Linked DNA regions of Homo sapiens: regions 1 and 2 are each linked to region 3. Evidence: fine-mapped expression QTL. A gene starts in region 3. Each other region holds a variant in brackets. All regions are shown on one strand. Distances are from middle to middle. Region 1 overlaps MGAM (maltase-glucoamylase). Region 2 holds the start of MGAM2 (maltase-glucoamylase 2 (putative)). Region 3 holds the start of MGAM (maltase-glucoamylase).

Region 1 (5,000 bases), 60 kb after region 3:
TGTAAGATGATATGTTCAGTTTGGGATGCTGAATTTGAGATTTCTGTAAAATGGCCATCAATATGCAGTAATTTCATTTCTTTCCAGAATTTAATTGCATTTAAGGACTAGGGATGGACTAGCTGTGATGTCTATTTTTCTATTAAACTAAGCTTCTCAAGGACAGGAATGTGCCCTTTCCTGTTTGTGCTTCTGAAATCTACAGAGCCTGGCCGATAGTGCTGTAATGTTATTGACAGAGTAAGTGAAAGTGGTCAGGACATTGTCACATTGCCTGAAAGGTTCTTTACAATCTGACATCAACCCGAATTCTGAGTTCTTGTTCATCCTCTAATGCAGGGAAGAATCTCTTGTATGTTTGTACCCTCCTTGTAACACTAGCATGTTTTAGGCACCTAATGGGTTTGAAGTGAATGAACTTCCCTGGAGTTCTAGCCTTAACCATTGCCTACTCTACCTCTTGACCGTAGAGTAACTCTTTCCAAAATATGTGCCTCTTTCTGGCCCACTTTAATTCTCTCTGCCTTCGTGGTTGTTATTCTTCACCAGAATGACTTGATCTCCTTTCTTTGTTTGGTTAATGACTACCAAGCTTTTAATATTCTAGACTGTATTTCTCCCGTGAGACCGTCTCAGTCTCCCAGAAACAATGTTAGGCATTTCCTTCCCTAGAATCTCACAGCACTTCTACATAGCTCTCCCTTAGCACACATCACCCACGTGTTGTGAGCTGCTCTCTTTGACTTCTTATTCGCATGTGAATTTCGTAAAACCATAACACTGCCTTATTGAGCTCACGTCCCTAGTGTCTTGTGCAGTGTCAGGCAGGGGATGTAGTAGGTACTCATGAATCAGTTTAGATACCACTTTCAGCAAGGACATTCTGATTATTTTAATCAAATAGATTTCATTTTGGGGAGACAGGTTTTTTTTTGAACTCATAATGATTTTAAGTTATTTATATATACTCATATACCCACAGAAAATAACAAGTAACATATTCATAAATACCACACTGATTCCAGAATGATTTTCCAAGTCAGCAGCAATGTCCCATTGAGTTTATTAAGGTAATAGAGGCCTTAATAATGAGAAATCACAGAAAAATGTTAAATGTGACATTGTTATCTGATATATTAATTAAATCTCAGATATCATAAAGAAGATAGAAACATAGCATCTGAACTTTGTGTCCAAAAATCAAAAAGGTTCTGCTAAGGGTATAGGTTTCAAGAGTAGTATTGTTGCCTAAAATTGATTTCCTCTGGCCTAGATTTATGATCCCAACAAGAATCGGTATGAAGTTCCAGTCCCTCTGAACATACCCAGCATGCCATCCAGCACCCCTGAGGGTCAACTCTATGATGTGCTCATTAAGAAGAATCCATTTGGGATTGAAATTCGCCGGAAGAGTACAGGCACTATAATGTGAGTGGCTTCTAGTGTGACTCAGAGTTGATGGCTACCTGCGCCTTCGCTGCCAGGTCCATTGTCCTTGGATGTATCCTGGTTCAAAACATCACATTGTCCACTTCCAGATCCATGGATGAGTTGTTTCCTTCAGACCTATTCTTACAGGAAATCTTTAGCATTCTGGAAATAAATACTGAAGGAGTTGAATGTGCCTGAGGATTCATCCAACAAATGTTTATGGGGTGCCTTCTCTAGATTAGGTGCTGCTCCTTATACACAGCTGAGGTTTCTCTTCTCATGACAACAAATAATAAGTAAATATCACTTTGAGTGCTATGTAGAAAATGGACTGAGGGGTGCAAGGATGGAAGGCAGTGCTGGTGTGGAGTGGTCCCAGCTGTGATGATGAGGGGTGCTTGGATTTGTATTGTGGAGGACCACTGAAAGGAGGCAGTGACAGAGGGAAACGGAAGAATGATGAATAACTCCTGGGCTTTTAGCGAGGATATCTGTGATATTTTAATCAAATTGAGTTTCAGTTTTGTTTGGGATATGAACAGCTTCTTGGTAGGAATCAAGTGTTCTGTTGTCCTTGAAAAGTCACCTGCTGGAAACAGAGATAAAAGCTCATTTTCTGTTTCAAATCTGCGTTTTTGTGTTTCAG[T/C]TGGGACTCTCAGCTCCTTGGCTTTACCTTCAGTGACATGTTTATCCGCATCTCCACCCGCCTTCCCTCCAAGTACCTCTATGGCTTTGGGGAAACTGAGCACAGGTCCTATAGGAGAGACTTGGAGTGGCACACTTGGGGGATGTTCTCCCGAGACCAGCCCCCAGGGGTAAGGACAGAGCATTTGGGATCTGTGTCTCTGCTTCTCTCCACCCACACTGCTCAGGCTTTGGGCTTCATCTTCCCAAACTCCACTTGGTCATCACATTCTGCTTTTAGGCAAGTGGGCCAATTCTCAGGCTCCTTTGTTTCATGTGTTTAGTTTATGTGTCTAGTTTCATGGAGAAAACTAGAGCCATGTTAGCAAGCACATTTTTGTTGAGTTTCTTTCTCAGGCATAATGTCTTTTAAACTCCTACTGCTTCTTCCCATGACTCCCCAGTACAAGAAGAATTCCTATGGTGTCCACCCCTACTACATGGGGCTGGAGGAGGACGGCAGTGCCCATGGAGTGCTCCTGCTGAACAGCAATGCCATGGGTAAGGCCATCAGCACCTCCCTTATTTTGGGGGGATACCAATCATGCCTGAGTCAATTTACAATGTGTTTAGCCTAACTGTTCCTTGAAGGCAAAATCTTCATTTTACGGGCACTGCTGTTTATTTTTTCTTTGTGTTTAGCCTTTCTGTTTATTTCAATCTAATATCATGTAATAAGAAGATTTAACCCAACTCTCATTTTGGTAAAAATCACATAAGAAGGGATAGTAACACCACATGGGTCCCAAATATCCTGGAGGGCAGCTCGTGAGAGCCAGTTATATAATTTGAATTAGGGTAAAACTATGGGTCAGAGAAGTTAGTCTGGGGGTATTGAGGGTGTATGGTATGTTGGAAAATTACCTATCGGGTACTCTGCTCACTGTCCGGGTGAGGGATCCATACCCTAAACCTCAGCATCATGCAATATTCCCATGTAAGGAACCTGAACAGGTATCTCTTTATCTAACATAAAACTTGAAATGTAAAAAATAATAATTTTATAAGAGTAGAATGATAAAATATAGTAAAGTACCCTAAAGAGAATCAAACCCAGGAATGGGACCTGTAGACTTCCATTGATCTTCTTCAGTTCTGTGAGTATGATAGAAAATGCCTGCTGTTACTACTCTATGATAGGGAGGGTGCAGGAAGATGGAGAATGTGTGGATTTCAGGGGTGATTCGTGACATGGAAGGTGTCCGTGAGGCTTGGCATTTTTCTTTATTTTCAGATGTGACGTTCCAGCCCCTGCCTGCCTTGACATACCGCACCACAGGGGGAGTTCTGGACTTTTATGTGTTCTTGGGGCCGACTCCAGAGCTTGTCACCCAGCAGTACACTGAGGTAGGGGGAAATCCAATTGTTTATCAAGTACTTACACAGCACATTCTGGGTGCCAGAGTCCACATTGATTAGTATAACTCTCAGTTGACAACTGGAAATATTGGTCTTTCTTGGAGAGAGATTATAGAATGAGAAAAAATAAATACATTCTAATTATCATTAAATTTATAGCCTCTGTAAGCATTGCAGAATAGCAGAAGTTATAGTGGTACTAGTGGTGGTGCTGGTAGTGATAGTAGTGTGATGTTGGTGTTATTTGTGGTTATATGGTGATGATGGCAGTAGGGGCTGACGGTGGTGATAGTGATGTGGGAATGGTGATAATGATGGTGGTGGTAGTAGTGGTGTTGGTGATGGTGATGATAGTGGTGGGGGTGGTGGTAATGGGTGTGTTGGTGATGATGACGGTGATAGTGGTGGTGATGGTGACAAGGGTGGGGCTGACGATGGTGTTTGTGGTAGTGATGGTGATGATGATGGTGGTGTTGGTTATGGTGGTGGTGGTAGTGGTGGTGACAGTGAGGTGGTGTGAGGAGTGTGATGTTGGTGATAGTGGTTGTGGTGATAGTGGTGATGGTGGGGATGGTGGTTGGGGTGGTGGTGGGGGTGGTAGTGGGGGGTGGTGGTGACGGTAGTGAAGGGTAATGATAATGGTAATGGTGGTGGGGGCACGATCGTGGTACTGGGGGTGATGGTGAAAATAGTGATGATGGTGGTGGTGATGATGGTGATGATGACCATGGTGGTCGTGGCAGCAACAACAGACACTTACATACTACCAAGTGCGCATCACTGATTTATCACTTGCTGCATGTTAGAGCATTTCACACATATTAACTCATTCATGCATCACAGAAACACTATCAGGCAGATGCTATTATTATCCGTTATTTACAGATGAAGAAACTGAAGCACTAAGAGATTACTTAATTTTTGCCCAAGGTCACACAGCTAGCAGGATTGGAGCCTGTATACTAAGCCAGGCATATGTCTCTGATTCTGGGTTTCTTAACCAGTTATCTACAGTGTCTCTAGGAATAGCGTAACATCAGATTTTCCATAATTTTTAAGAAGGAGCTCAAGTCTAGCAGAAAGCTTTCTCTAAGTATCCTAGTGGCTCTATATCCTGTCAGTTTTGGTCTGGATTTCAATTAGTTAGTTGTCTAGCTTGGGGCACAGAAAAATATTCTTATTACTTGATGTAAAACTTCAATGTGGTGCCTCTGTTCTGAAGACTAATATTTTCTGTCTATTTTCTAGTTGATTGGCCGGCCTGTGATGGTACCTTACTGGTCTTTGGGGTTCCAGCTGTGTCGCTATGGCTACCAGAATGACTCTGAGATCGCCAGCTTGTATGATGAGATGGTGGCTGCCCAGATCCCTTATGTACGTTCTCAGTCATGGCTCTGGAGTTTCAAAACTAACCCAGGTGCCTCTGTGTCTGGGTTCATTTGTCTAATGTTTGTTGGATTCCATAAAGACATAAAGTTCTTTTTCAGACAATATCACAGTTAGCCTCACCCCAGCACAGTAATATA
Region 2 (9,705 bases), 120 kb after region 3:
AAATGTGTAAATCTTATTTCTAATGTATACAACCACATTTCACATAAAAATATGCAATTTATATGCCAGATAAAAATAAAACAAGTGAATTTGCAAGTGATTTTGAATTTTGTGCTATTTTGACCATGAGTAATCTCTGTTTGGGGTTAAGGTTCTTGTTTAGCAAACTCTTATGAATTTGTCTTTCTGGTTCTCTTCGGCATCACAGAACCTACAGCCAAATCCACCAATAGGATGATAACCTTTATAATTATCCTTTTTCTTACATCTCTGCAAGGAGTCTTTTATAAGATGTGGGTTTGTGGAAGGGTCTATTGATTACTATTTTAATCATCATAGCAGTTGCTATATTTAGGAAAATACCAACTCCAGTAAAAATAGGAGTTGCAACCTTCTTGCTTAAAATTCTATAGGGTTAAAATGTGAGATAAGGAAATTATATATTAATGTTCAACAGGAATATTAACTTTTGATGTTACCTGAAAATGAGTTGAAAATGAATGTGTGTGGAATGAATGAACCTACTTCTCTGTGTTTTCTTCTTTTCTTATAACCAGGAAGCCATTCATTCTCCCTGCACACTCATGTGTCAGCACCTGCATAAGGCTAGAGACAAACAATATTGTTAAATCATCTAATTATCACAATACGGGGCATTTGGATGAGGGCCTGAGCTAACTAGGAAACTGGTGAAATATGGAAAAGCAGCCATGGGAATCCTTTGATCAAAAAGGTGGGAAACTTGTCAGCTTTCCTCTAACAAACTCAGGAAGGCCACAAAGATGAAAACGTTATTTACTTGATATTTAAAAAATATTTAATGTTACCATCAAGGATATGTTGGTGGAATTTGGCTCTGGCTGCCACAGAATGCTTAAGGAGAGGCATTCTGACTATATAATTCTGATGGCTAAGGCCCTAGTGAGGCCAGTGGGGTTTTGGAGCACACGAAGTGTCAGGGACCCCACTGACAGCCTAGTGAAACCTACGGAATTCTTCCTCACAACATTGTTTTTAAATGCATCAAGCAAAATGCATGCTATTTCAAAGAAAACTTATCATATTACGATACACTTATCCAAATATTAAAGATGATATAGTAACCCATGAGATGTGTTTTTTTCATTATCAAATTAAATGAAAAGATCCAACAGTGGAAGTAACAATGCTATAATTTCAATGTAATGATCAACATCAACAATATTTTGAGATATCCACTACAATTTCATAATGTAATATGGAAAGATCTGTGATTGCATTATTGACAAACTCATGTGCTATGAAAACTACTGTGTTTTGTTGTCTACATTCATAACCTAACAAAATGCTAAATTTCAGCCAGAAATGTGTGAAAAAGAGATTATCTGTTGGAACCAATATGGCTTACCGGAGTTAACGCAGAAAGAGCTTGCTGACGTCACAGCCTGAATTTCCACCACAGGTTCTTACTAACTCCCTCCCAAATTTGCACATGAGACCCATGATGAGGCATGAAGAGATAACTGTGCATGCCTGAGGACTTTCTAGATTTCCTCTTTCTTTTACCAATCACCTGCTAATCCCAGAATCCACCCCCTAAGTCTTTTCTGATAAAAATACTTCCTTAAAGCCAGCACAGGAAGACAGGTTTGAGCTGGACTCCTGTGTCCTGTGAGTCGACTTTGCAATAAAAGCTTTTCTTCGAAACCCTTTATCAGAGTATTGGCTTCTAGCGCATCGAAGAGTGAGCCCTTTCGCTCAATAATACCCCCAGAGGTTGTTCCTCAGATCACAGTCTGAGAACCACCTCTCATGGAACCATATCCATTTGTGGCCATCCCAGAGCAGCCCCTACAACATGGACCTATGCTTACAACTCCTGGCCAGCTATTCAGGAAGAGGCTGGGGGCCTTCCTTTTCCACATATGCTCTGTTTTTTAGATCACATAATTTTGCTTTCTTCATAGGTGTGCCAAAATAAAAAAAAAAACACTCTCAAACTCTTTCACTTAAATAGGAAGACATCTATTCCTTTCTTATTAATGTTATAACATTAAATGTCATATATACCTGCAAAGATAAGGTTATGTTGGCCGTGGCAGATGTCTTCAAGATCTCATCAATATTTCTTTGTTCTTGTCATAGCGGCAGAGTCACTGAGAGTTTTGCATCTGGCCTTGGAGAAAGGTGTTCTGGAAGTTAAGGGTGACTCATATTACTAGTTTCTGATCTGATGATTCCAACCAGCAGCTTGCTGTGACAACTGTTTGAGTTCCGCCAATAGCTAACTTTGCCGTGCCTTGTTACCGATAGACAACTGGAAGATGTCGGGTCACGTGCCTGTCTCTACCCTTCAAAGTGGCTCTGTTATTTTCTCATTGGTCAACACCAGTATGGTGATTCAATATCTTCCAGTTACTAGTTAGCAAGAATGGAAGGTGAAGGTAGCTATTTTCTGCACTTTAGGAAACAGGTTATAGATTAGCTGGGCCTGTTGGTTACCACTATTAACATAAATGAAGTCACAAATGTGCATGGCATGTGGGGAGTTAAAGGTAAAATATCACACAAAAAATAGATCTTATGTAACAATAAAATCTCCCTTCTTGACCTTTTGCCAGGATGTCTTCCCAATTTGAAATGAGATCTTGGTACATTTCCCCTCTAACAAAGGCCACCTTGTACTGGGGCAAATGAAAAGCTGAATATGTCATTCCAGCAGTTCATAAATGCAGAAACCGAGTCTCTCTTTCTCTCTCTCTCTCTCTGTCCCTCCCTCTCTCTCTCTCACTTTCTCTCTCTCTCTCCGTGTGTGTGTGTATGTGTGCTTTTCCACATACTGAGCATTTGAAGCAAACACAAAAGATTCACTACTGTGAACACTGTTATTTACAGTTCTTAGGTGCCACCAAAAGAGCTCTCTGTACCCTCATATATTACTGGCAGGAATGGGGGTGTAAAATGGTGCTGCCACATTAGAAAGCAGTTTTGCAGTTCTTCAAAAAGTTAAAGACTTGTCACATGACCCATGATTCCACTCCTAGGTATATTCCAGGCAGAATTTTAAAACGTGTCAGCTCATAGCAGCATCGTTCATAACAGGCAAAAAGTATCAACAACCTAGATGTATATCAGCTGATACATGCCTAAACAAAATGTGGTCTATCCA[C/T]GCAGTGGATACTATCCAGACATGGAAAGGAACAGACACTGATACCTGAAATGGTGTGGATGAACTTTGAAAATATCATGCCAAGTAAAAGAAGCCAGACACAGATGGCCACATATTGTATTACTGCATTTATATGAAATGTTCACAATAGGCAAATCCATAAGGACAGAAAGTAGGTTAGTGGCTGCAGAAACAGGGGGAGATGGGAATGGGGAGTGACCACTAATTATTTTTGGGGGTGGCAAAAATGTTCTGGAATTAGATAGTGGTGATAGTTTCAGAATTTTGTAAATATATTTTTAAAAACACTGAATTGTATACTTTAAAAGAGTGAATCTTATGGTTTGGAAATTATATGTCAATTTAAAAATCCACTTTAGCTGGCTTAAGAAAAATTTTAAAAAGATATTGGTGACTCATTGAAACTCCGGTAGGACTAGAGAGTCAGGTTTGTAGGCCATGTGGCTAGGGACAAGCCCCAGGTTACCCTGTAGCGGTTTCTACTGCCACTGCCCTGAGCACATATCTGGCAGCTCGCAACCCCAAATACTGAGCATAGGATGCCACTAGGTCTCTTGTCCCTGCTGCCTCTGAAACGAGCTATGCTTCCAACATCCTGGATTTTACATGGTACCTCCTTATCTACACCTTCTTCTGGATGTAAGTCACTCACAGGAATATCTCATTCACAAAGCTCCAGCCACTTGCCTCTACCTTGGATGAAAGAAAGGCTGTGAAAGAGAATTTCTAGCTGTTTCTTTGGGGAGGCAGAATTTGGAGAAAAAGTCCTTAAGTTGATTTAAGTAAGAGGTTTTCTTTTTCTTTTTAAAGAAAGATCCTCCGTTTTTAAATTTTTTTCAACTTTTATTTTAGATTCAGGGTCTAAGATTCAGGGTGCATATACAGGTTCATTTCAAGGGTATATTGTGTGATGCTGAGGTTTGGGGTGTGATTGAACCTGTCACCTAGGTAGTGAGTATAGTACCCAATAGGTAGTGTTACTACCTTTGTCTCCCTCCCCACCTCCCCCATCTTAGCAAGAGGTTTTGAAAGATGCTGAGCCATCGAAGAACATGACAAATGTCCACTAGAGGCATCTTCCCACTTTAGGTTTGTATACATTCTTTCTCTTTTATTTTTTTTGAGATGGAGTTTTGCTCTCGTTGTCCAGGCTGGAGTGCAATAGGGCAATCTCAACTCACTGCCAGCTCCACCTCCTGAGTTCAAGCGATTCTCCTGCCTCAGCCTCCTGGGTAGCTGGGATTACAGCCGCCTGCCACCATGCCTGGCTGTGCAGATGGGGTTTCACCACGTTGGCCAGGCTGGTCTCAAACTCCTGACCTCAGGTGATCCGCCCACCTCGGCCTCCCAACGTGCTGGGATTACAGGTGTGAGCCACTGCACCTGGACGGGTTTGTATAATTGCTACTTTAATGGTACTTCACTATTTAGAATAATTGGTGGAAAGGATCATTTGAATTAATGAAAAGCTGAGTTATACCAAGAGAACTCTGGAGGATGAAAATGGAGAAAAGAACAAAGTGATGAACTAAGAGCTAATCCTTCTTTCACTTACTTATTAAATAAATAGCTATATATTTAAAAAGAACTATGGATATTGGGCAGAGTGCTAAGCACAGGAGATACAACAGTGAAGAAGATAGACAAGACCCTAGCTCTTGAGCCCTTTAGGCTACATGTATAGATGAGGAAACATAACGTGACAAGTAATCAGATATGAACAGGGATACAGAAGAGGGACAATGAGTAGAAAAAAAACCACCTTCCCCTTTTATTAACAAAAGGAGCTTTCATTCTGTGTCACATGGAGAACAAGCGTTCTTTTATGACCTATTGGAATATGCACTCCCCTCCTCCAGTTGCTGTCAACTTTATAAGGCAATAAATTAATTGTGGCAGAAGCTGGCTACCTCAGCCCAGTTACCTTTGCTCAGTGCTCCCTATGAATTGCTGAGGGAGAGATACAGCATAGAAAAAAACAAGGTGATGCGGTGAGTACGCTTCTCCATGCAAGCAGGGCTTTGAACAAGGGCAGGAAGGTCCCTTTCTTTTTGTGTGATTTTCTGTCTGCTGCTCTGTTAAGTGATCTGGATGCCCATGTTTTCCTTCTGGACTTAATATTTTCTTCCTTTTCCATAAAATATGAGGAGTGAGGATGAGATAGTTGATGGAGAGGAGAGACTGTGTGTGTGTGTGTGTGTGTGTGTGTGTGTGTGTGTGTGTGTGTGGTGTCAGTGTTTGGAGGACAGGTTGGGGGAGGTCTGGTGTGAGATCCTCCTCTCTCACTGGGAGAAATTAAGGACAGAGGAAACAGATGGGATCCTTCTGGAAACTATCTCAAGATGGCATGGATTTGGAGGAAGGTGAATTCCTCCCAGCTTTGGGCAGGAAGGGTTTCTAAGTAGGCAAGAATTTCTACCTTTAGGAATCCCCATCCTGTCCTCTGCCTGAATGACAATAGCTCCTAAGGCAGGAAAATACCCAGGGTTATTCCCAGAGCGTTCCTGTACTTCCTGAGCTAAGGTGCTGAACCTGCTCCCTCAGGAGGATTGAGGAGCTGTGGAGTAGGTCCCTGCTGCTGATTTTTAGAAGCTAGAAAGAAAAAAGTCTCCCTGTGGAGAGAAATAATACTTGCAGAAAGAGACCAATTGATGAATAATGCCTTTGCTGTGGTATTGAGTTGTGGGCTGTATGTATAAGAAACGAAGTTTGATACCATAGCACTCTTAGGGTAGGTCCTTCCTACTTCTTTCTCTACCTGAAATTCCACCATTGGAGACCGATCCTCTAAGTCTTTAAGCTCTGCAGCCTAGGATACATTGTCGAGAGAGTATTCAAGTACTATTTTAAAAAGTAGCGGCTCTCGGTGTTTGTCTCAGTTCCACCACTAACCGTGACTAGACAAAATTTCTTAATATTCATCTATAAAATGGAAATCATGATATCTGTCTGATCAGCTTCAATGCAGGGATTTTATGAGAATACAGTCATATGATATATATTTTATAGGGATTAGAGTATATCTTTTAAATAATTTAGACTAAAAGAGAGACAACTGATTAATTTAGGTAAATAGTAAAGAATAGTTAATAAACCTCAATTTTAATCCCAAACCTCGTGTCTCCAAGGGCTAAGGGTTCTTCCTAAATGCCTGTTGGCAAATTACCTGTAGGTCCTAGTTCCTTACCTCTATTTCAATATTAAAGTGCTTCTTTTATGGAATTATTACACATTAACCTAAAGGCTACTGTAATTAAAAATTGAAGCTATATACCTATATAAAAATATTTGTAGAAATGGTCGTGGCATTGGGGAGGAGTTGAGAAGAGCAGGGAGGCAGGGAAATGAAAAGTAAGAGGAGATGCAAAATCAACATAAAAATAAGAGAGAGAACAGTCTTTGTCCCTGCTGACTTATATTTAATAGCTTGTTGCTGCATAAGTGCTGGTTTAGTATGGTGGGAATATGGGGAGAGGAGACGCTGAGCAGCTGGGGTTAGGACGTGCCATGAAGACCTTTGATCACAAAGCTAAAGGGTTTTTGGTTTATTCAGAGATCCATTAAAGGCTTGAATATAGGAGATCCAAATGACCCTGTTTGTGCTGGTCACTTGGGTAATGACCCAAAGATACCGGGAAAGTAGTCTGACTGAACTGTTAACTGGCTGTGAGAACTAACAGAATGAGAGGAATTAAAAAAAGATTCCTAGGTTTTTTTTTTATAATGTGATTCTATTCCTCAAGTTATTAATTATTTGAAGAACAGATAATTTGGCCAAATTGGCAGGAACTGGGAGTGAGGTGTGGGGAGAGATGATTTCATGTTTAAACATGTTAAATCTTATTGAATCTGTGGGACATCCAATAGGCAGTTGAATATATGAATCTAAATCCCTGGGCTAGAAATACAGGTTGGATTGCCATCACATGTCATATAAAGTCACATGAGTGGTGGAGATTACCCAACGTGTCTGCGTAGTTTAAAAAAGAAGCCTATACCAGAATTTGGGGGGCATCAACATTTAATGAAATAGGGCTGAGCGTGGTGCCTCACGCAGGTAATCCTAGCATTTTGGGAGGCCAAGGCGGGCGGATCACCTGAGGTTAGGAGTTCAAGACCAACCTGGCCAACATGGTGAAACCCTGTCTCTACAAAAATATAAAAATTAGCTGGGCATGATGGCGGGTGCCTGTAGTCCTAGCTACTCGCGGGGCTGAGGCGGGAGAATCACTTGAACCTGGGTGGCGGAGGTTGCGGTGAGCCGAGATCGCGCCACTGCACTCCAGCCAGGGCAACAGAGCGAGACTCCATCTCAAAAAAAGAAAGAAAGAAAGAAGGAAAGAAAGAAAGAAAGAAAGAAAGAAAGAAAGAAAGAAAGAAAGAAAGAAAGAAAGAAAGAGAGAAAGAAAGAAAGAAATAGGAGACTACAAAGAATATTGAAGATAAGCCAGAAATAGAGGTGGAAAGCCAAGATTCCTATCAAGGAATCCATATGTGGAAAGTTTCATGGAGGAGAAAGTGGTTAAGTGATTAAGACAGCGCCCATTGTATTCAGCCACTATGTCACTAGTAACCTCGGTGGGAGCATTTCCAGTGGAATGCAGAAAACACAGCCAAGCCAATAACACATGAGGAAGGGAATACAGAAAGTGTGGAACTATCGTTTTGGAAGATTGGCACTGGAAAGAAAAAGAATGTTATTATGCTACCTGCAGAAGCACACAGAGTCATTAACAGAGTTTGGGGTGACTTGGGGTATATTTATGAAGGAAAGATATTCAGAGAGTGAATTTGATAATGCAAGACAATAAGAGATAATTGGTGGAATGAAATTTTTGAGAAATTCAACAGCTGTGAGATCTAGATAACAGATACAAGGATTATGCTTAAACAAGAAGAGGAAAAACTGTTTCATTGAGAATAGAGGGGGAAAAATAAGAATTTACCTAGATGTGAATAACCTTTGTGGAAACGCTTGGGTTGAGAAGCAGAGAGAGAGAATAGTTTCTGCAAAATCATTATTTTTTGGGTGATATCAGAGATGATACTGCATGAGAATAAGAGTGTAGGTAATAGAGTCAGGCCTGAAAAGAAGGATAGAAGGAACAATTTTTTAAATTACAGGCACGGTGGCTCATGCTGTAATCCCAGCACTTTGGGAGGCCGAGGTAAGTGGATCATTTAAGGTCAGGAGTTCGAGACTAGCCTGGCCAACGTGGTGAAATCCTATCTCTACTAAAAATACAAAAAGTTAGCCACACGTAGTGGCATGCACTTGTAGTCCCAGCTACTCAGGAAGCTGAGGCAGGATAATCCCTTGAACCTGGGAGGTGGAGGTTGCAGTGAGTTGAGATTGCGCCACTGCACTCCAGGGTGACACTCCGTCTGCAAAAAAATAAAATAAAATAAAAATAAAATTACTGCTGCGAAAAGTGAGAGGCACTGTCAAGACCATCAGTCGGCTTGCAGGCCCAGTTTATTTAGGAGATTATGAGCCTCGGTGGCATCTCCCTTGAGTTACGTGCGGCAGCACAGAAGGCAGATGTTTGGATGGATAGTTTCATCCTGCAGATTCTGTTAGCAGATAGAGAGCGAGGAAGATGAGAGCAATGGCAAGTTAAATAATCAATACTGAGGCCTAGGTCAGTTAGGGTTAACAGCTAGGAAGGGCTAAGAGATTAAAAGGAAATGGAAAGATAACAGCTGCCTTGATGTGATAAGATACTTTTTTAAAATAAAGTAAGGCAGGCTGGGTGCTGTGGCTCATGCCTGTAATCCCAGCACTTTGGGAGGCCAAGGTGGGCAGATCAGCTGAGATCAGGAGTTCGAGACCAGCCTGACCAACATGAAGAAACCTTGTCTCTACTAAAGATACAAAATTAGCAGGGCATGGTGACGCATGCCTGTAATCCCAGCTACTCGGGAGGCTGAGGCAGGAGAATTGGGTGAACCCAGGAGGCAGATGTTTCGGTGAGGCGAGATCGTGCCATTGCACTCCAGCTGGGCAACAAGAGTGAAACTCCATCTCAAAATATATAAATAAATAAATAAATAAAATAAAGTCAGACAATGAGACAGTAAAAGGACATTGCTCATTTGCATATGGATTTACAATTTCAAAAGTGTAACAGTTCTGGGGATGATAAATTCCAGGGGCTAGCAAACATTTGAGGATGATGGAGATGGAATGGCGAAGAAGGCATTGCAGCTGAGGGCTGTCATGGATCTGTAGACATGTAATAATGTTAGATTTACTATAATTAGAGCAGAAAAATGAGAACACATCCAGTGTCTGATGTCATTTTTGTAGATGAAGAAATACAGGTCCAAATAGGTAAATAGCCCATCTGTTAGTAAGAAAATCAGGACAAGAATTCAACCCCTTTGATTCCCAGTTCAGTACATCCTCCAATATAGAAAATATTTTAAATCTTGGGTCAATAAATGATCTTCGGGGTTACTGGGAGCCACGAAATTTATGTGAGTTGTTTGCTGTGAACCTCCCAGCAAGACTTATGCTGGGTATCAGGATCATT
Region 3 (11,514 bases):
AAAGAAGCAGATAATCCAGTGTTTTGAATCTGTGTAGAAATCTATCTCGTGCTTATGACAGCTCTGGGCAGTTTCTTACCTGCAGTGGTTCCCTATTGCTTGCAAAATCTTCTTGCTGAGATGAGATGCTAGAATCTCTGCATTGTGGCTCCAGTGTACTTTCCCAGAAGTGTCCCTGATTGTCTCACAACTGTCTTCTCTGTGTCTTTTTACTGCAGTTTCTAAAACAGGTTCTGTTATTTCTTTTTTTTTATGTTTTTTTATTTTTTATTTTTTTATTATTATACTTTAAGTTTTAGGGTACATGTGCACAATGTGCAGGTTAGTTACATATGTATACATGTGCCATGCTGGTGCGCTGCACCGGTTCTGTTATTTCTTACCTGTGGGTCTGGCTAATGCTGCTCCCTTCGCCCAAAATATCTTTCCTTTTCGCCTTCCCTTCCCACTTCCACCCAGCTATGGCTTTGATTTCTTTCCTGTCCCTCCCAGCATGTGTATTCTCTGTCCAGTAGCATTTGCTGGTGCTGTCTTCTCTTTAGCATCGTAGCCATTTGACTTCTCTCTGCTATGAGGTCATGGAGGAATCACGCTCATCTATATTTCAGTGCAGGCTTGACCAGACTGCCTGGCTTTGCATTCTGGGTTTGCCTCTCATTAGTTACATGACCTGGGGCAAGTCGCCTTTGTGCCTCAGGTTTCTCATCTGTAAAACTGGGATAATAACAGTACCGACTGCATAGCGTAGTTACCAGGAGGAAGTGAAATAATGCATGGAAATCATTTAGCATAGAACATAGGCCACAGTACGCACTCTGTAGATGTTGTTACTGTTATTCTCATAGTGCCTTGTTTGTAGTACACACATAATGACTGTATATTGATGGAATTGTGTGGAGGAAGTGGTTATTGCTATATTTTCTGTGGCCGGAAGTGAGGAGGCAGCCCCAGGGCTAATGCTTGATCCAGAGGTGGGGTCACAATGGTTAGGGTAAGGGTGGTGGCTGGGGATGGAGAAAAGGATTTTTTTTTTTTTTTGAGACAGAATCTCACTCTGTTGCCCAGGCTGGAGTAGTACAATGGCACAATCTCGGCTCACTGCACCCTCCGCCTCCCAGGTTCAAGCAATTCTCCTGCCTCAGCCTCCTGAGTAGCTGGGATTATAGGCACGCGCTACCATGCCCAGCTAATTTTTGTATTTTTAGTAGAGACGGGGTTTCACTATGTTGGTCAGGCTGATCTCAAACTCCTGACCTCATGATCCGCCTGCCTCAGCCTCCCAAAGTGTTGGGATTACAGGCGTGAGCCACCACACCTGGCCGAGAAAAGGAGATATTTTAATCACATTCCAATCCTCACGTTTGCATAGTCTTCGAGGCTCCCAAGTAGACATGCTTTTCTAATATCTCCAAGCCTAGATAAGGCCATGTCACCAGACAGCAAGCCACTCCAGGCACCACAATGATTATACCTTGGTCTGGCCTGAACCATGTTTTTAAATCCAGGGACTTGGAGCTAAGCCTTTAAACTGCTACAGTCAGGCAACATCATAGATGTTGTGCAGGGTAGGTGTTCAATAATTTTTCCTTTGTAAACATGAATGACTGCCTGCTATGTTCGGAATTCTGATTTGGGGTCGAATGAGAGATTGGCATATTTGAATGGGCCTTGGATTGGGGATTCAGGGTCTGAGCTCTTGTCACAACTGTGGCAGATGCAAACTGATCATATTAATTGTAACTGACACTTACTGAGTATTTACTAAGTAACATCAAGTCTTTTACTCACATTATTTTGTCTAGTTTATAAATTTATTGATAGGTAGTATTTTAATCTTCATTTAAGTTACAGAATCAGAGACTTAGTTGCTTAAGCTCCCCCAGTTAATAAGCAGACCTGGGCTTTGCAATTCAGGCCTGCCCTGTTCGGATCTGGAACTCTGAGTCACCACCCACACAAACCTCCTATTCCTGGGTCTCAATTTCCTCTTCTGTAAAATAAGGAGGCTATGCTTAGTGATTTTTAAAGTTCTTTAAGGGCGATACCAAACAACTCAAGTCACATGTCTTAGGAGCTTGATGGATGTGCATTTGGGTGGCAGTTTAGACATTTGCTGCCTTGGGGCCATTGTGAACATCAGTGAGATCATGTAGGTGAAGGTCTTGTTTTTATTTATTTATTTTTATTGAGGCAGGCTCTCACTCTGTTACCCAAGCTGGGCTGCAGTGACATGATCATAGCTCACTGCAGCCTTGACCCCCAGGCTCAGGTGATACTCCCACTTCAGCTTCCCAAGTAGCTGGGACTACAGGTGTGGACCACCACACTCAGCTGATTTTTTTTATTTTTTGTAGAGACATGTTCTCCTTATGTTGCCCAGGCTGGCCTTGAACTCCTGGGCTCAAGTGATCTTCTCGTCTTGGCCTCCCAAAGTGCTAGGATTACATGTATGAGCCACTGCTTCAGACCCAAGGTCTTGGCACTCGGCCAGCCTCCATGCATGCCAGTTTTCCTTTCTTTCCTCTTTTAGCTGTAAATTCTTTGATTCTATGATGCCAAAGAAACACGGTAAGTCAGTGTTACCACGGTGGTTGTTGTTCACTGATGGTTCATGAAATCAGAAAAGTAAGGATAAGGAAGTAAACTTTCAAAGAGATAAATTGATTCAATTTTGATTATCTGTCTATGTCTACTGTGAAACGACTGTGATAAGAGATAGTGATTTTTGTTTGTATTTTCCAGATGATATACATGGTTTATAAATTTAGGTCTCTTGGCCCAGATTTTTTTCTGAATTTTCACTAGCCCATAAAGACAAATGCCTAGAAATAGCAGTAGCTGAGCAGGACTTTTTAAACTATGTGTGGTAAAACAGCAATTGTTTTAAAATTGTCCAATATATCACAGACTGTGGCTTTTGTAAAATTAAAACTAAATTACTTGAAAAATAAATTTTAAAAAAGCATATACAGATACAAGCTCCATTTTTTAATTATCAAGATCAATGACATGAAATGATTCTGTCAAATTGTAATGCAAGTCTCTCAACACTTACCTTCAATTTCTGTGCTTATTTTTCTGGAAGCTGGCAACCACAGGTTCACAGATAACTCTTGGAGTATCACAGAGCGGGGAACTCTGCCCCACTTGGAGGAAGGTCCACTTAGTAACAGAGCAAAGTTCTTAACCTGGGGTTTGTAGATATAATTCTGAAAGCCTGTGAACTTGGAGGGGGAAAATATTTACATATCTTTTCTTTGCTAAATTCTAATTGAAATTTAGAGTTAGGCTGCAAACTACAGTGGTGTTAGTAGTACCTATGAATTTGGTTTCAAGAGAGGTCACAGTTACTTTCACATCATATATTTAAAACAATCTCAAGATATTGTTTACGCTTATCATGTTTTTGAAATTGCAATCGCTATTAGACATATCGCTTTATTGTTAGTATGTCATTAAAGAGGCACAAACTATAATTTAAAAAATATTATAGTAACTGTGTTTCAATGTAATTGATTTTCTTTGTATCTCAGCTCACTACAACCTCCGCCTCCTGGGTTCAAGTGATTCTCTTGCCGCAGCCTCATGAGTAGCTGGGATTACAGGCACGCACCGCCATGCCCGGCTAATTTTCGTACTTTTAGTAGAGACGCGGTTTCACCATGTTGGCCAGGCTGGTCTTGAACTCCTGGCCTCAGGTGATCTGTCCACCTCAGCCTCCCAAAGTGCTGGGATTACAGGCGTGAGCCACTGCACCTGGCCTAAGAATTAATTCTAAGAGGGGTTTATAAGCATGTCTCAGCTCCATAAGTTCTTCTTGCCCACTGCCCTCCAAAAAGATCAATGAGAACAGCAGGCATTGCAGTAAATAAAGAGTTGAATAATCACAGTGTTGGCCAAACAAGAGCAGGCAAAAACTTCTCAATCCCCTCTCCCTCAGGATTCAAAGGCTAAGGTTTGTAAAGGGTACTTTGGTGGGCATGGGGCTGGGGAACTTGTATAATTGATTGGCAGGGAATGAAATCACAGGAGCACCTAAAACTGTCTTTGTGCAACTGAGTCAGTTCCCAGGAGGGGTGTGTGTGTTGGCCTCAAGACTAGGTGGTGTCTGTTGGTCTACTGAAATGCTAACAAATATCTAAAAGACCAGTTATTTAGGTTTCACAATAGTGATTGATATGGTTAGGCTTTGTGTCAGAACCCAAATCTTATCTTGAATTGTAATCCCCATAATCCCCATGTGTCAAGGGAGGGACCAGGTGGGATGTGATTGGATCATGGGGGCGGATCCCCCTATGCTGTTCTCATGATAGTGGGTGAGTTCTCATGAGATCTGATGGTTTTGCAAAGCAGTTTTCCCTGCTCTTGCTCACTCTCTCTGGCCTGCCGCCATGTTAAGAAGTCCCTGCTTCCCCTTCCACCATGATTGTTTCCTGAGGCCTTCCCACCCTTGCGGAACTGAGTCAACGAAACCTCTTTTCTTTATAAATTACCCAGTCTCAGGCATGTCTTTATAGAAGTGTGAAAACAGACCAATACAGTGATGTTATCTTTGGTAGTTGGGGAAGTTATGAATTTTGTGACACTGGTTGTGTGACTGGGGCAGTAAGCAACTTATAGAAAAACAAACTAAGCCATGGCAGGACATTGTTTATGCCTATTCTTTAGCAAAGTCTAAGCCCCTACCATAATTCCAACCTTGCCTTATGAATGCGCCTTTAAGCTCCAGGCAAGGAGGGGGATCATTTTCCCTTGACTCCAAGTTTAACTATAAACTAAATCCCTCTCATAGGTTTCTTGGCCTTTGTACTAGAATAAGCAAAAAGCCAACCAAAAAAAAAAAAAATCCCCTAGAAAACATAATTTAGCCTGGGAGGTTAGAAGCAAGATGGAGTCAGTCTTGTTAGATTTCTCTTATTTATAGTTCTGCAAAGGCAGTTCAAGAGTCACCAGACTGTTAAAGGATTTCCATACTGCAAACAAGCTTAAGGACACCTTAAAGAAGAAAGAAGAAAACTATTTTTAAAACATTTTTAAAACAACTTCCTTCCATCACAATCATCAGATTGTGCTACTAAACGTCAGTGAGTTCCTGAGAGATTCGGAGTCAGTGCAAGAGACCAGGGCTCTTTTGGAATACTGGGGTCATTTATTTTTTGCTCTTTATCATCTACAAATTGTGTCTGTGTTCTCTTACCAGACATACAGGGTGTCCTCACCACCGATTAAACATTCAGTGCCTGGAGGGGATGGAGTGGGTCATGGGAGCTGGCTTTTCCTTCCAAAAGTCTTAAGGATGTCCTTCTTAGAGCAAGACCACGATTACTAATTAACTAAAAATTCTGATCCTGGAAATAAAAGCTGGCCATTCATTTGCATTTGAAAGCCATTAACATTTTCTTGATAGGTCGGTAAATAGTTACCAGATCTTTGGTTGCTTTGGTGGACTGTGCTCCTCTGCTTTTATTGCTAAGCCATCCTTCAGACAGAGAGGGAGCGGCTGCAAGAGGTAATGAGGTATGTTTGTGAACCTTGTATTCTTTTACGGTTACAGATGTGTGTCTACAAGTGTGTGTGAATTTGAGTTGATCTCTTTTAGTCAAAATGCCCTTGTTGGCCGGGTGCAGTGGCTCACACTTGTAATCCCAGCACTTTGGGAGGCCGAGGCGGGTGGATCACGAGATCAGGAGATCGAGACCATGGTGAAACCCCATCTCTACTAAAAAAATACAAAAAATTAGCCGGGCATGGTGGCGGGCGCCTGTAGTCCCAGCTACTCGGAGAGGCTAAGGCAGGAGAATGGCGTGAACCTGGGAGGTAGAGCTTGCAGTGAGCCGAGATCACGCCACTGCACTCCAGCCTGGGTCGTAGAGCGATACTCCGTCTCAAAAAAAAAAAAAAAGCCCTTGTTAATTTGTTAAACACAAAGATAAACAACACCAATAATAAATCAAAAATTATGCACATGCATACACATGGAACAAAATTCTCATTTATCTTTTTTTCTTAGTGTGTGTATATTTTTCTGAACTAAGGCTGGATCTATAAGCCTGATTGTAGTGAAACCTGTGTGTTTGTGTGTGTTTCTGTGTGAGGTGTGATGAATTATTTAATACTTAGGTTGAGGTAGCAGGCAGAAATTCTTTCAGATTCTGGAAATGAAGTGAGAGAAATGAATAAAAGGAGTTAGAATTTGGGAGTGAGATTAGAGCATTTTCCCTCTGAAAGGATTTGGAGTTGTGATTGAGAAAATGTAACTGAAGAACCAATTATAATCAGAAAATTGAGAAATATATCACTATGCTTATGGGTTTGGTGCCTCTGTTGATTAAATACAGAATAATTTTAGGGGATAGTCTGAGGATGTGTGTAAAATATTGGGATGCATTTATGAGTTGGTGTGCATTGGTGGGTAGGAGAGGTTTCCTGTGGAATGTGGGAGGAGGTCATAAAGAGAAAGGTAGGGTATCTGTCCTGGCAGTCATGTGTGGAGTAGAATGGGAGTGCTCGTGGGAAGAGGAGAAGGTGATAAATTGTTGTTGGCCCTTAAACTTAAAAACTTAAAATAAAATACTTAAAATAAACTTAAAATAAAACTTAAAATAAAACTTAAAAAAAGTTGGATCCTTACTAGTTGCCAGTCTAGCTAGACACACGCAGGCATTTCTTTTCTGACTGGTTACAGAGGTGGGAAGGGAGAGTTACTCTTGGGGAAAGAGAGAGAAATTGAGACTAATCCCCATGGGTCTCCCTGAAAAAGGATACCACTAGGTTCTTCATGCAGGATCTGATCAGTGGCTTTGCTGGGCGAGGAAGACCTCCCAATGTCCAAACTGTCTACAGTCTGTGTCCTGGTGTGGGACAGTAAGTGTATGTCTGTAGGTGTGCAAAGAGGGGGTGAGATGGAGGGGGTCTTTGGTTTGTTGTGCTGGTAGGTCCCTGTGCTACCAGGGACCAAATGAAGTGGGACACTAAATTTAAGACAGCTTGTTGCTATTTCAGTCACACTCTCACAAGATGCCAATGATTATTTTTTATTATCAGGCATTCCCTCACAAATACATTTTAATGAGCTAATAAAATTACTATAAAAATTGTTCTATAAGCATGGAATGGAACTAGAAAAGAAATTTTCCATTTAAAATTTGTTCAGGTGGCAGCTGTGGAATGTGATGAGAAATATAAGCCTTTGCACACCCTGTTGCTGGGCTCAAGGAGGAGTTAGCTGTCTCCTAGAGATGATCCTTTTGCAGTTCAGATGGGGAAACTGAGACCCAGAGGGGTTAAGTGGATTTTTCCAAGGTCATACAGCTGGCTAGGGTCAGAGCTGACTCTTAAATCTCTCACCTTGGGTGTGACCAGACTTGGAAGAAAAAAGCCATTCATTAGCTACCTTATCCCTTCCCATTCACCAAGCAGCTGGGAAAGGATGGCCCAACCTACTAATATCGCCCAGCATTTTTGATGAATAGCTATGGCTCACTGGGGTCCTCTTTGCAAGTTGTTCTTAGTCTATCTATCCACAATGAATCCTCTTTTCCACTAGATCTCATGTCTTGTGTTAGCAAAGGATTTTAAAAGAATGGCTTAGACCTCCATATACACATCAAACGCTGGCTATAATGCCGGAAAGAGGACAAATATCCAGTTTTTCCAAATTAATTTAGATAGCCATTTTAATAATTTGGGCCCCCATGTGGTTTGTCTACTTTGCCTAAAGAACTATAATGGTACCAGGACAATGAGCTTTGACAATTATTCATATACTAAATAATTCAAGAAGAAAAAAATTCTATTGCTTTTGCGTAATGTATATATAGTAATAATTCTTTTTTTAAATTTTACTTTAAGTTCTGGAATACATGTGCAGAATGTGCAGGTTCGTTACATGGGTATACATGCGCCATGGTGGTTTGCTGCACCTGTCAACCCATCATCTAGGTTTTAAGCCCCACATGCATTAGGTATTTGTCATAATTCTCTCCCTCCCCTAGCCCGCCATCCCCTGACAGGCCCTAATGTGTGATGTTCCCCTCCCCATGTCCATGTGTTCTCATTGTTCAACTTCCACTTATGAGTGAAAACATGTAGTGTTTGGTTTTCTGTTCCTGTGTTAGTTTGCTGAGAATGATGGCTTCCAGTTTCATCCATGTCCCTGCAAAGGACATGAACTCATCCTTTTTTATGACTGCATAGTATTTCATGGTGTATATGTGCCACATTTTGTTTATTCAGTCTATCATTGATGGGCATTTGGGTTGGTTCCAAGTCTTTGCTATTGTAAATAGTGCTGCAGTAAACATACGTGTGCGTGTGTCTTTATAGTAGAATGATTTATAATCCTTCGGGTACATACCCTGTAATGGGATTGCTGGGTCAAATGGTATTTCTAGTTCTAGATCCTTAAGGAATTGCCACGCTGTCTTCCACAATGCTTGAACTAATTTACACTCCCAACAGTGTAAAAGCGTTCATATGTATATAGTAATAATTCTTATATTTCAGTAAGATTATTTTCTGACCAACCTAATTAAAATTGCCACCCTTACCCCAACATTCCTCATTTACCCCCCACTTTTTCTCCATATACTTACACAGTATAACCCAGTGTATATTTATTTATTTTGTTTATTGTCTCTTTTTTCTATTCATGGGAACATAAGTCTCATGACGGCAGGGATTTTTATCTGTTTTGTTCATTGTTGTGTAGTCAGTTTTTGAAAGAATGCTTGGCACATTGTAGGAACTTAATAAATAATTCATGAATGAATAAATAAACTGCAAGCAGATTTCTTTCTTCCAGAGATGTAGTTTAGATAATGATGAATGATCTTGGCAAATGAGGCACATCAGTAGCTTCTTCTAGGTCTCCCAGATAATTTAAAACGTGCTATGGGCCATAAACTTAATGTGTTTTTATTTGATAAAACTATAATCTCACAGAAAGCCCAAGCTGGTGTACACTGTGGGGCATTATAGCATAGAATACAGAGTGATGGTTAAAAGCCATGGCTGTGGAGTCCAAAGGGCAGGTGTTCAAATTGTGGCTTTGCTCCTTATCAGCTGTATGATGACATCAGGCAGTTTATTTGACGTTTCTGAAGCTTAGTTTTTTCATCTGAAAGTGAGGATAGTAGCCATGATTAACTTGCAGTCGTTATAAAAATGGCATGTGACAAATTATGGAAACCTCTTAGGATATCTGCTCAATCACTGTTAACCATTATTATCATTAGCATTAAAATTGCATAGTTATATATTTGTCCTATAAAAAAATAGTCAAAGATTAAGGACAGATTGCCAAGTAGCAGTTTTTTAAAAAACATTTTTAAAAGCCCTTAACCCTATTTAAATTATTTCCTTTTTTATTTGCGTCTTGCCATTTTTCCTGATCTTAGTTTTTCTTCAATTGCATTTCTAATTGAGATAGGAAGCTTCACCATCAAGAGTTCTATAATGCAGGAAGTAAGGTCAATCAGATAATGCTGGAGTTTTTTTTAAGGTTTAAGGAAATCTTTCTCTTGTATAGCTAGAAAATAGATATTATTGTTCCATAGAGCAAGTAACCATATTTGAAAATATGGAGCAAAAGGACTATTAATAAACAGCAAACATGTTTTTAAAAATATGCTAATGATATTTTATTAAAAAGTCATATTTACCTATGCATATTGGTTATCTATTGCAGGGTAACAAATTACCTTACAATTTTGTAGTTTAAAACAACAAACATTTATTATCTCCCAATTTATGTAGGTCAGAAATATGGGGGTGAGTTAGCCGAGTGGTGCTGATTTAGGGTCTCTCATGAATCCAGCCAATATGTCAGCCAGGACTGTAGTCATGTGAAGGCTTGAATAGGGGTAGAGGCTTGCTTTCAAGGGACCTCACTCAGATGGCTCTTAGCAGAAGACCTCAGTTCTTTGCTAGAAATTTCCATAGTCCTGCTTGAATGTTATGATGGCATGGTAACTGGTTTCTTCAGGAAATGATCCAAGAGAAAGAGCAAGGAGGAAGCTGTAATGCCTAGTCTTGGAAGTTAGATGCCATCCCTTCTCCACATCCTATCTGTTGAAAGTGAGTCACTAAGTCCAGCTCATCCTCAGAGGGTGAGGTGGTGGGGACTCGCCCTACCTCTTGAAGAGAGGAGTATCAAATAATTTGTTAAATTAAAAACACCTGCCGTGTGATGATTTTAAATAACATTGAATTATATTTTACTTCACGTATTTACTGATTGCTGTCTCTATGGATATTTACACTTTTTTGCTATTACGTGTAATACTGTGATGAAAAACCTTTATTTGTATATACATTGATTCCCAAGTGTGTAAGTGTATTTAAGGGATGAATTTCTATAAATGCAATTGCTGGGTAATGGGCATGAGTAATTTTAATAGTTTTTACCAAGTCTTCATTGAGCATAGGGTGTTTATAGTTTGACCAGCAGTCGGTGGGTGTTTCTTCATAGTGTCTAACATAGTGTGTTAATAAACACTTGGAAAAAAATTAAATATTTTTATAAAAAGCAATCTCACATCTTACAACTATTAGCATCTACCAAAGAGGAGGCATGGTCACTTGGATAGACATTCTAACTCCTCTTCTTATCAGTGAACATAAGATTACTCTTTGCTTTATTAGTTAATTTAATTATACCAGGCATGAGAGATTATTAATCTTTATGGAATTTAACAAGCAAGTTTAATTTTATAGGATTTCTTATGAAGCTCTTTGGAATGTGAGATAGTGGTGACAGTCATGGTAAGAAAGACTAGAATTGGAGTAATTTATTCTAGAAAACACAAGGCAATCCTTGCTGTAGAGAAAGGTTGCTTTCACAGCTCCATTTCCTTTTGCATAGTAAGAGGGCATTACGTTGACTAACAGCAGTTTCTTATCAGTGTATGAGAAGTAAGTCCTCTTATTCAACCAATCCTTGGATAAATGACTAAGGATGGCTGCTTCCTACTGAAGAGAATGTGGGAGGAAACATTGATTGGGTGGAGAATGAGACCGCAAGGAAATATCAAACAATTCCTAAATTAGGGAGTCATGAATTAAGACCTCACAGGAGAAGAAGGGTGATGTTCTTTTTGAGTAAAGAGAGTATGATTTACAAGGCAGCCTGGGAAAGCAAGCATTGGTGGGTTGGTGGAGAAAGTAGGCCTTGTATAGGCAAGACTGTAGCTATGGCTCCTCTTCCTGGCTTTCTGCACCTATGTCCCAGGCAATGCATGAGTCATCCAACACACGGGGCCATAAAGCACTTAATGAAGGTCATACCAGAGCAAGCCAACCAGGACAGCAATCAGCATTGTTCATCAGCTGCTCCACCAGAACACCAAGTCGGGTGTGGTGACACACTCAGGGAAAGTGGGACTGACATATTTTGTAGGAACATTCTGTTTCTTACCCAGGACCCATTACCTGTCTTCTCTTTGGTAAATAATGAGACCTGTGCTTTATGACTTAGAATATTTTTATTTGATTTCCACAATAAGAAGGTGGCAA

Evidence for each region. PIP is the estimated chance that this variant, and not a neighbour inherited with it, causes the effect.
Region 1: its variant is fine-mapped to the expression of MGAM in whole blood (INTERVAL, PIP 0.98).
Region 2: its variant is fine-mapped to the expression of MGAM in whole blood (TOPMed, PIP above 0.99).

What each region holds. Positions count from the first base shown.
Region 1 is chr7:142,053,481-142,058,480 of GRCh38, forward strand. It overlaps MGAM (maltase-glucoamylase), which reads left to right. Exons shown (of 71, transcript NM_001365693.1): 27 at 1,274-1,428; 28 at 2,078-2,246; 29 at 2,520-2,616; 30 at 3,350-3,462; 31 at 4,723-4,848. Among named protein-coding and RNA genes, the nearest start is that of MGAM2, 56 kb to the right of the region's middle. The variant T/C (reference allele first, on the strand shown) is at 2,078.
Region 2 is chr7:142,106,648-142,116,352 of GRCh38, forward strand. MGAM2 (maltase-glucoamylase 2 (putative)) reads left to right here and starts at 5,071. Exons shown (of 48, transcript NM_001293626.2): 1 at 5,071-5,160. It overlaps MGAM (maltase-glucoamylase), which reads left to right. Exons shown (of 71, transcript NM_001365693.1): 71 at 1-100. The variant C/T (reference allele first, on the strand shown) is at 3,149.
Region 3 is chr7:141,990,414-142,001,927 of GRCh38, forward strand. MGAM (maltase-glucoamylase) reads left to right here and starts at 5,466. Exons shown (of 71, transcript NM_001365693.1): 1 at 5,466-5,517. RefSeq lists an enhancer at 5,164-5,665.